Homo sapiens: one gene and its partners. The protein of the gene in region 3 purifies or fractionates together with the protein of the main gene of each other region. This does not show direct contact. Each region holds a gene or a part of one and is shown on either strand. Other genes may lie near its edges.

The links.
Region 1: the proteins of NR2F6 (region 3) and GPM6A purify together in Homo sapiens (affinity purification with mass spectrometry; one large-scale study listed by BioGRID and IntAct). This does not show direct contact.
Region 2: the proteins of NR2F6 (region 3) and INPP5A purify together in Homo sapiens (affinity purification with mass spectrometry; one large-scale study listed by BioGRID and IntAct). This does not show direct contact.

The regions. Positions count from the first base shown.
Region 1 is NC_000004.12:175,700,765-175,704,264, forward strand, and holds part of GPM6A (neuronal membrane glycoprotein M6-a), read right to left. Parts: intron 1,004-3,500; coding exon 811-1,003; intron 1-810. UniProt on the Homo sapiens protein: Involved in neuronal differentiation, including differentiation and migration of neuronal stem cells. Plays a role in neuronal plasticity and is involved in neurite and filopodia outgrowth, filopodia motility and probably synapse formation.
Region 2 is NC_000010.11:132,743,787-132,747,286, reverse strand, and holds part of INPP5A (inositol polyphosphate-5-phosphatase A), read right to left. Parts: intron 1-3,500. UniProt on the Homo sapiens protein: Phosphatase that specifically hydrolyzes the 5-phosphate of inositol 1,4,5-trisphosphate to inositol 1,4-bisphosphate, and inositol 1,3,4,5-tetrasphosphate to inositol 1,3,4-trisphosphate. Plays a crucial role in the survival of cerebellar Purkinje cells.
Region 3 is NC_000019.10:17,243,120-17,247,151, forward strand, and holds the start of NR2F6 (nuclear receptor subfamily 2 group F member 6), read right to left. Parts: upstream 2,801-4,032; 5' UTR 2,102-2,800; coding exon 1,824-2,101; intron 1-1,823. UniProt on the Homo sapiens protein: Transcription factor predominantly involved in transcriptional repression.

The DNA.
Region 1 (3,500 bases), on a different chromosome or scaffold from region 3:
GATTACAAACAAACTAATAAATTATTTTCTTTTCATGGGCATAAAAATCACTGAATAAATTATCTGAATTAGTAACTTATTTAGCAATAAACGTTTCTAGAATTCAATCCCAAACCTTTGTTCTCTATATTATGCAATAAGGAGCTGAAATTTCAACAGCAAACTTTAATTTTCAGACTGTTTAAGTTACTTTTCTAAAAAAGTTATTTTAACATAATCATAGTGATCTTAGGAGTTTTACATTTTATGAGAGAAAAGTATAATTGGTGTTTGAAAAAAAAGGTTGCTTGATTTCTTATGATTTACTCTTTTACAGAAGACAATAAGAACTTTGCACAATATTTACATCATTTCTGTAAATGTAACAGCAACAGTAAGATACCATACCCAGGGCTGAGTTTATTTCTTTTAAAGGTGGGAGCACCCATGGAGCTTTGCTGATTTTCCTAAAATTAGTAGCAAGGGCCAGATTTGTACCTGGCACTATTCTAATAGAACAGCCTCTGTTCAAATGAGAAGAGCAAGGGAAGTCCCAGAATTCCACTTAATGGTAACCAAATTTCGAATACAACTTTACATTTAAAGCATTGGTTAAGTCCTGATTAAGTCGGCCTCTGATCCTGTGCTACGTGCCTTCTATTGACTGTGAAGGCAATCATGAATCATGATTACCCTTTTGAATCAGGTATACCCTAAAAGTGCTGTTTCATATATATTATCACCTCATCTAACTGTAGGCCCCTAATCATTTAACACATAGAAGTGTAAATATATACATGGAAAATAACAAGAAATACTAGAGTGACTTACATGGTAAAAACATCCAGTGTGTCTCCAGCAGTTCTTGCCATCTCAAAGTAGGTTTGCAGAATGTTGACAGTTCCAGAAAGCGCTTCATGACCGCAGCCACAGAACAGGGCAACACCCGCATAGAGCAGGATGGTGGCAATCAGAGAGGCATAGGGAATGCCCCCCAGGCATTTGATACAGCATTCAAAACACCCTGTAGAAGATCACAAAGGGAGAAATTCATATTTTTGTTAACCTAATTTAATTTTTTTTTTCAAACTTCAGCACTATGGGAAAGTATATTTGCACTGACAATACCAGGTCAACCATACAAATGAAGTCCTAGAGTGCATTGAAGGATACTAAGATCAAATTCCTTAATTATAAACCCATCCTCCACAAATAAGAGAATGTTTGCCATGACTGATGTCTTCCTCATCTACCGCAAAACCTAGAGAAGCCCTTCCTTCCCAACCCAGACTTTCTATAATAATTAATCTTCACCATACATGCATGCATATCATTCCATCTTGAATTTATTGCTCCCAAATGTCACATGCTTATGGTTTTATTTCAATGGTATTTATTCTTTTGCACTCTGTGTATCTGCATTTTTCTTTTTTTGTAACAGATATTTTTATTGATGTGTCATAGTTATACAAGTTTTGGGGATCCAGGAGATATTTGGATACATGTTTATAATGTATGAGGATAAAATCGGGGTAATTGGGATATCCACCGCCTAAAATATTTATGTTTTCTTTGTGTCGGAACATTAAGATTCTTCTCTTCTAGCTATTTTGAAATATACAATAGACTATTTTTAACTATAATTTCCCTACTATGCTATCGAATACTAGAACTTATTCTTTTTACGTAAGTGTGTTTTTGTACCCATTAACCAATTTTTCAGACAGTAAGTTGAAGCCTGTTAGTATGTTGTGAAGTTAACCTAGTGAACTGTTTTCTTTCCTTTATTGAGACAGAGTCTGGCTCTGTTGCCCAGGTTGGAGTGCAGCGGAACAATCTCGGCTCACTGCAATCTCTGCCTCCCGAGTTCAAGAGATTCTCCTGCCTTAGCCTCCCAAGTAGCTAGAGCTACAGGCACACACCTCCGTGCCCCATTAATTTTTTTGTATTTTTAGTAGAGACAGGGTTTCACCATATTGGTCAGGCTGGTCTCGAACTCTTGACCTCAAAACTCAGTGAACTTTGACCAGCAAATATTAAAAGTGACAGAGACTGGAAGAGACAATATCTGAATTCATGTTATGTAGTAAGGGAAATTATTTTTGACTCTTTTGACTTCAGTACTCCTATATGATATTTGAGTGGTGACTCATAATGAAAATCTACTTCTTGCTATCATTCATGGTTTGAAAAAATGAGAAAGACACTGGCACAGCAAATGAGAGCACATTGGACACACCAATCCCTGTGTGGTTTTTGCCAAATTTATTCTTTTGAGCTTATTGTCTTTAAAAATGTGACAATAAGATAATCTCTCATATGGTTCTCATGAGCATTAAATGAGTTAATATAAAAAAATAGTGCTTGACATAGAGTAACTACTCACTACATGTTATCTGTCATTATTAGATGTAACCTAACTATTATTACTTTTGGGGGTGGGTGGAAGATGGAGTCTCACTCTGTCACCCAGGCTGGACTACAGTAGTGCGATCTCGGCTCACTGCAACCTCTGCCTCCTGGGTTTAAGTGATTCTCCTGCCTCAGCCTCCCGAGTAGCTGGGACTACTGGCGCACGTCACCACACCTGGCTATTTTTTGTATTTTTAGTAGAGACGGGGTTTTGCCATGTTGGCCAGGCTGATCTCAAACCTTGACCTCAAGTGATCCATCCACCCTAGCCTCCCAAAGTGCTGGGATTATAAGCATGAGCCACCACGCCCAGCCTAATTTAACTATTATTCATATGAACTATTACTGTGCTGTCATGTGGTTGTCAAAAATTCTTTGGCCATCATGGTCACTTTTGGTTTTTGAAGTCTCATCACTTTTACTTATTAAAACACAGCTTTAAGCATTTAAACTGAGACATCAGAAAATGATGGTAAATATTCAAAATAAAGGTCACAATTTCCTAGGCTATTGCTAGATATCTTCTAAGAAATTAACTAGAAATGCTTAAGTATATATGTTTTGCAAGAGCAAATACTGGTGAGGCACTATGTGCCAGCCACAGCTGATAAAGGAGAATTTAGATGAGAGAGCTGACAGGCTAAGGGTACTTGCAAGGATGACCTAGGTTCCATATGTACCCACCTCTAGCCACCCCACCCCTCAGATACACACACATATCCTCATTCCAAAGATTTCCTCCTTATGAAAATCCTTGATCAAATCTGTCTTTGTAATGCTGAAGCCCCTCAGATAATGACTTTTCCTTTTTCTTCAGAAACAAATGACAAACAAGATTTTAAAATGGATTATTATTGTGCTTAAGTCATAGGAAGATCTGTGTGCACTTTATCTAGAAGGCATAGATGCATATAGCAACATATGAAGCATGTGATAATTGCAAAGTTCCTGTGAGAACTAAGTTTATATTGAGAGATTGAGCTAGTCTGCTATTTTTAATGCTGCTCACTGAACTGGCCTTCTTGACAATTCTAGTCCATCCCATCTGCCCCAGAGGAGGTTAAAAAAAGGAGTCTGAACACCTTCCCACTTCAGTAGCTGTTGTTTGT
Region 2 (3,500 bases), on a different chromosome or scaffold from region 3:
AGCGTGAGGATTAGAACAAGCACCCAAACAGCCACACAGCGGGGCCACCCTGCCCACCCCTGTGTCCCAAGGAGGTCCGGCCCCATCCAGATGCTAATGGGCTTAAGTGGCTTAAGCTGCTTTCCCTGAATGGGAGAAGGCTTGGCAGGCAGACGGCCATTGTAGCCATCCCAGGACGCGGCTCAGGAAATTCACGGCTCTGTCTCCCAAAAGGCATCTGCGGGAAACTGTTTAAAAACTGCTTTATCTCAGCACTTCAGGCAGGCTCCCAAAGGACAAACATCTGATGGACCCCAGAGCCCAGGAAGGGGCCGGCCACCCCAAACCCCTCCCCAGAGCTGCCTCATTCACAGGCTGTAAAGGAGTGATCAGGCCAGGCTGAAGGGGCCAAAGCTGGCCTGTTCCCTTTGCCTTTCAATCCAGCAAAGTCGTGGCCACTCATGCGGAAAGTGGCCAGGCTGGGCCTTTCCGGCTCGCCTACTTTGGGAAGGGATTCTTCTCTTTTGAAAGGAGAAACAAATACCCTAAATGCTATGTTTAAAAAGCCATCTAAGATGTATTTCATTATTAGCAGCCGCAAGGAGAGGCTCTGGAAAGAGTGGTCCGGTGTGCCGTCTTATCCACACTTAGAATTTAACGGGAACGCTGTGTGCCAGGGTCATCCACACGCGTGTGGATCACGAAGTTCCTGCATTTCTTCTTACTGTTTGGATAACCAAGGAGGCATGCTGCCTGGACAGGGCGTCCACAGGCCCAGGGCACAGGTGTCAGCCCAGGAGAAAGGCTGTTTTCTGTGCAAGGAAATAACGCAGTCATTCGGATGTGCACGGAGCTGCATGGCAGGCAGAGTCGCCCCAATGTGCACCTGTGCAGTTGGTCTCACGTTGGGAGCTGAATCTGTCCCATCACCCCCTCAACTGTCCCGGACACTCTGCCACAAAATCCAAAACTCTACTAAAGGCAAACACATCCTCTCAGACCCTGTCAGCCCAAGTTTTTAAATGCAACCTTCAAGAGCTGGTTTATAAAAACAAAAAGTTGTTCTGTACTCTCTGAAATGAATCCTCGCTGGCTGTAGCCTCCAGGCACCGCACGCACAGCCAGCAGGCGCCTGGGCTCCACTCTCTACCTGGAATCACCAGGTGTCCAGAGCGCCCTGCCTGGGCCAAGTGGACACACAGCCTCGGGGGCCCACTCAGGGCTCCGAAGAAGCCATCTGGGCACACGTGCAGGCAACGCCGAGGCCCTACCCCAGGCTTGGCTTCTAGGTCCTGCCAAGGCGTCTCAGGGTAGGCAGGGTAGGCGAGGCTGGGTGGGCAGCATGTGTTGCTCTTGTGGCTGAGCTGGGAGCTCTCACGCACCCGCCTGTTCTCCAGGACACACTCCTCCTCGGGGGCCACCACACCCGGGCCCACCACACCCGAGGCCACCATGGCCGGGCCCACCATGCCCAGGCCCACCATACCCAGGGCCACCACACCCGAGGCCACCACGCCAGAAGCCCACCATGCCCGGGCCCACCATACCCAAGGCCACCACAGCTGAGGCCCACCACGCCCGAAGCCCACCACGCCTGGGCCCACCACACCCGAGGCCACCATGCCTGAAGCCCACCATGCCCAGGGCCACCACACCCGAGGCCACCACGCCCGAGGCCCACCACACCCAGGGTCTGACACACTGTGGGCCCACCACACCCGAGGCCCGGGCTGGGGCCAGTGCCAGCCGTGACATGCCTCACATGAGGAGGAAGGTCCCAGCAGGGCCCAGCACAGATGCTGCCCGGACTCGGGAAGGGAAAGCTGGGATCCCAGGGGTGCAGCTCAGGCACTGGAAAAGCAATCAGGCTCGAAGGCTGGGAGATGCCCCTCCTGCCACACGGAGAGTCCAGTTCCCTGGTTACTCCCTGGTGGTCAACACACTCCCAGGCAGACAAGGGAATCCGTTAGTCACTGGGGCCACAAACCTCCTTCCTAGGGCCAGAGCCTGGCAACAGGGACAGCCCCAGCCCTCACCTTCCCAAAGGGGAGGTGTCCCCAGGAGCATCGTGGCCTCCAGGAGCTCGCGAGGGGATGGAGGACCCCGTCCTCTGTGGCAGGCAGGCAGAACCACCTGCCCCAAGATCAAAGGCTGACAGGCCATAGCGCCCTCCCACCACGTCACCCTGTGTCCCCAGGCCCTCCCAGAACCGCCCAAGCTCGCCTGGAGCAGAGGCAAATGCACCTCTGTGGCCTCCTGAGCCAGCCACTGGCTCGGGCACACCCTGTCCCCAAGCCTGTGCCACGGGAGAGGCGGGCAGCCCGGGCCTCGCAAGCTGCCAGGGGCTGCACCGCCGGGCCCAGGACAGCACTTTCGGGAGGGACAACGGTGCCGTGGTCTGTGGCGGCATGTCTAACATGGCGGCTGCACAAAGTGAGGCTGAGGTTGAATCCTAACCTTCCTCAGTGGATAGAAATCAGTCAGCCCTGCAGGTCGCCTCAGGCTCAGGGACAGCCCGGCCTCATGAAGCCTGGGAATCCCAACAACTTCTTCCTCTCCTTGAGAGCCGTGTCCTCTGTCTCACCTCAATGCAGGGAGTAAAAGGGCGTTCACAGTTAAATAAAATAAAAACGAACCACAAAGCCAACGTTGCCCCCGAATCTAGAAACACCACAGGCAGCTACTAAGGGGCAGATTCTAGTGCGTTCTTAAGGAATGAAACCATCATCAAGGAAATAAGGCTTTTTTCCTCCAAACTGAGACCCCCTAAAGGAGCCGGTATTGAAACTCCCCCATCTGCCCGACACCTACGGGCATATCCCACCATGAACGGGATGTCCGCTGACACCGATTCCATAGACACAGGGACCGGTGGAGCCGCAGTGTCCCACCCTCCCGGGGGTCCTGGAATTCCTGATCTGGCCATTGCCTCGGTGACAGCGGCCGCTCTGCTGCGGGAGCAGGGCCTCCTGGGAGGCCTGTGGGTGGTGGGGGATGGCTCACATGCTGGCCCCAGGACCAGGCCAGTTTCTACATACTCAGCTGCTGAGTCAATCCGTGGGGGGCTCAACTAACTTTTCTCATCCAACCAGAAGAAAAACCACCTTAAAGCAGAAAGCAACAAAATGAGCCTGCTCCTTGAGGCTACGACTCCCAGCCCCTCAGCAGGCACAGAAGCTCTGTGGGTGCACCTGTTTCCCTGGTGGTGTCTGGCAGCTTGGCCAGAGCCGGCCACTCCTCCACCTCTGTGGGGGCCCGTCCAGCCTGGCCCTTAAGTGTCGCAAGACACAGACCTGCAGGTGCAAATCCGCTGTGGCTGGAGTTCTTTCTCATAACAAAAACTTCCTCTGTTCCAAGGATGGAATTCGGGACCACACGCTCAGCCATGGTCTGTCTGCGCCAGAGTGAATGCACTAAAACCAGGAGGCTCAGATGTGGCCCCAGCCTGCCTGTCTGAGCCCCGGGGCCGGCCTTGGAGGGTGTCCTCAGCACACGTGTGCACCCCAGTCCTCATCACAGGT
Region 3 (4,032 bases):
TCCCTGTGGCCTTTCTTCCACCTGCCAACTCCATGCTTCAAGGCTCATGTCCCCTAGCCTCCTCCAGGCAGCCCTCTCTGACCTCCAGGCAGAGCCTCTGCTCTCTCCCTGGGACCCCAGATCCCACAGACTTGGGGCATCTGTCTCACTGTGTCTCCTCCAGACTGGGGGCTTCTCAGGAGCTAGACTTGGAGCTGGGGTCTCTCTGGAGGGGCTGGCATCAAACTACCCAGGCTGGGCCCCAGCGAGACCCTGCTCAATCCATTTGAAGCTCAGAATGGAATGGTGATTTCACCAGGTCACACAACTGACACAGCACAAACCTGTCAGCTCCAAGCAAGGCCCCCCCCACCCAAAATTGCTGCTCCCTGACACCACCCTCAGGAAGCTCCTGGGACCCCAAAACTGCCTGAGCCCCCCTCCCTTACCCTCCCTAAAGATATGACCAGAGAGCAGGCGGTTTTCCAGCAGCAAGAATGAGGCCAAAGTCTAGTGGCCCACTTTGTGCTGGAGGAGGGAGCAAGGCAGCTCTGCCACACATGGCCACACCAGGCCAGCCCTGACCCGGGACCTGGGGCCAAACTCCACCCTCGGGTACCTGGGGCCCTATTTGGTGGCCTCAGCCAACAAGCCTTCCATCAGCCGTTCTCCCTGGGGCCACTCCGATCCGAACTCAGCGGTCCCCACCCTAGCCCCACAGTTCCCCCACAGTGCCCCCAACTCGGGCAGCGTCCCTCCATGTCCAACGCAAAGCAGGCACCAGGACCTCTCTCTGGGCCTTTGGGCCTCTGTTTTGGGCAGCTGGGAACTGAGACCGTCTAGACGGGCTCCACAGAGACCCTGCATGTTCCTGGGGTGCAGAGTAGGGGCTTATAAACGGACAGATCGGATGCTCGCCCGGGAACGGTGAGAAAAGAACTCCCGGGCTGGACAACCCCGATCGCTTTCCCTGGGGACCTTCCGCCAGAACAGCTAGCAAGGCCACGCCCTGCCAGAGAGGTCTCCGACCTGGGACAGCCCAAGGCTCCTGCTCGGAAACGTTTCACTCCCTGCCCGTCTCAGAGACACCCAAAGTTTGAGGGATTTTTCCAGGAGCCCCAGGTCTGCACCCACCCCTGGGGGAGAGGGACGTTTCAGTCAATTCCGGTGGCCCTGCCGGCCTTCCAGTGGCGATTTCCGGTGACCCAAGGCCCAGAGTGAGCCCAGAGGGGTTCCCTGAGATGGGCAAGCCCAGCTCCCACCCCCACCCCCACCGCTGGGCCCCTCATGCGAAGAAGGCCGCCCCGTGCCACCCCAGCCTCCCTCCGTCTGCCGCCTCCGTAGCCACAGCGACTTTGGAAGTGATATTTGACCCCAAGGGCGCGCCGTATCGATCCGCGCGGCCGCAGACAATGGCCCCTGGACGCTGCGAGCTCCACGGTCCAAGTTCCACGTTCGATTCCCTCGAGGGCATCCCGCGCGCCGGGATCCCCGAGAACGGGTGCCCTGGGGTTGGGTTACCACCCCTGACAGCACCCCTACCCCCACCCCAGCGCGGAGATGACCCCTCCCCAGAGAAAAAGCGGAGGGAAGGAGAAGCAAGTAACTGGGGCAAAAGCCTCCAGGGACCACCTGATGGGGGGGGAACCTGCAACGATGTAGCGCCGACTGTATACACAATCCCAGCCATGGAATGCGGGAGGAGGGTGCTGTGCCCCTATCTCAGAGGGGGCAGTGGAGGCCCAGGGAAGGTCAGCGCCAGGCCCAAGGTGACCGAGCAGGTCAGAGGCCTGCCCCAGGTCGGGGCGGGGTGCACGGCGGCGGCGCGCGGATGGGGGGCTCACCGGCAGGTGTAGCTGAGGTTGCGGCGGATGCTTCGCTTGAAAAAGCTCTTGCAGCCCTCGCAGGTGAAGACACCGTAATGCTTGCCGCTCGACTTGTCCCCGCACACCACGCAGTCCACCTGCAGCCCCGGCCGCTCCTCGTCGCCCGGCTCGGCGTCGCTGGCGGCACCGGGGGGCGAGGCCGAGTCGTCCTCGGCCGCGCGCGGGTAGCCGCCCGCCTTGTCCACGCCGTTCGTGTCGCCGCCGGGGCCGCCCCAGCCGCCGGTCACCATGGCCATAGCCCCAGGGCAGCGGGGCCGGGGCGCCCCCACCGCGCTCTTCCCTCCGGGCACCCCTCTCGGCCCGGGGGACCCTACGCGGCGCGCATTCGGCCCCGGCGCGCGGGGGGCACGGGCTGCACCCCCCAAAAAAGTTTTGCAGCAACTTCCTGCGGCCGGTCCTCGCGCCCGGGCGGAACTGGTCGGGCCGGTTCCAGGCCAACTTTCCCACGCGTGCGCGGGGCCGGGCCCGGGGCCGGGAGGGGCACGCTAGAGGCGCGGGCCGGGGGCCCAGAGGACTCGCGTCCCGCCGCCCTGGGGCCCCGGCGGGGGCGCGCGGGCCATGGCCCGGCCCGAGCCGCGCAGGGGGCGTCCTCTGGCCTGGCCGCCGCTCGCCCGGGGGCTGCGGCCAACTCAGCGGGCCGCCATCCGAGCGCGGGAGGCCGGGGGGAAAGTTTGGCCGCAAGTTGCGCGGCCGCCCGTGGCGGGGGGGGAGGGGCGGCGGGTGCGCGCCGGGGCTGATCGCCGCGCCCCCTGGGTCCCCCGGCGCCCGCGGCTGCCGCTCCGGGCCTGCAGGGCCGCTGGGCCGGCGCCTCTGGAGCTGCCGCCCCCGCTGCGGCCGCTCCTGCCTGGCCTGGGCCTGCGCCTGGGCCCAAGCCTCGCTCTCGCCGCCGCCACCGCCACCGACCCCGCGCGCCGGCCTCGCGCTGCGGCCGGTTTGACACACAGCGTTCCATTCGCGGGGCGGGCGGGGGGCGGGGGCGGGGGCAGGGGCGCGCGCCGCGGGCTGGGGGCGGGCGCTCGTTGCCCCGGCGACGGCCGCCCTTATAAGGGCATGGGTGGCCGCGCGCGGCGCCGGGCGAACGGGCCGGCGGGAGGGACGGGGGCCGAGCGCTGGGCCGCGGGGCCTGACCCTCCCCCGCCTCCCTCTGCCCCTCCCCCCGCACCCCCGCCCTCGCCCTCGCCCAGCTCGGGCCTTAACCCCTGCCGGGCCGCGGCGGGAGCCTCAGCCGCGCCTGCCCTCTGCCCTTCCTTGAGCCTCGCCAAGATGTCTCTCCAAGGCCCTCCCCTCCACCTCTGGCCTTGGACGTTGGGTCGCTCGATCACCCTCGAGGCGCCCCTCGGAACCTCTCCCCACCCCACAGTTCCTGGCAAAGCAATGATGGGGGGCCAGTGGCACCCGGGGGGGGGGTACGCCCCTGCGCAAGACACACGCGCGCGCGAGACAGACAGACACACACACACACACACACACACACACACACACACACACCCTAGATTGTGTTTGCTTCCTCTTCCAGAAAGTCGCCGCGTCTGACCCCCACCCCACCCTTTCTCTGCTCGGGTTAACACCTGGTGCCCGGAATCTCCAGGGGGAAGGGATGTTGTGGTCTGAGACCGGCTGGCCGGGGCCGCGAGGTCAGGGGGCCCCTCTGCAGAATTTCTGGCCTCCGGGGGCAGGGCGCCCACCCGCCCCGCGCGGCTGGAGGCGACAGGCATGCCCTGTCTGGGGGCCTGCCCCTTTTTCCCTTTTAATTTCCTTTTCTTTCTGTGCTTTGCAGAAAGGGCTTGGCCTGGCGGCCGGCTGGACTGCAGATGTCTCTTCCAGGCGCCCTGGAGCCTCGCAGCTGCCGCCACCTCCAACTCACCCCATCCCCCAGTACCGGGGCTGGGGCCCGCCCGACCAGCATTTATTAAGCACCCTTTGTATGCGAGGCCCGGGCTGGCGAGCCTCTGGCTCTGGGCAGGTTAACCTTTAACCGGCTGGACAAGCCCTTCCAGGAGTGACCTTTCACCTCGGAGTCTTGCAGCCCCAGCCACCCAGACTGTGGTCCCACCCCGCCCTGAGCCCAGAGCTGGACACCAGAGCATGCAGCTGGGCCTCTGAGAGCTCTGGCCAGGACAGTGCCTTCTGCGCACCCCCTCCTCTGCCTCCCAGAGCCCTGATGAGA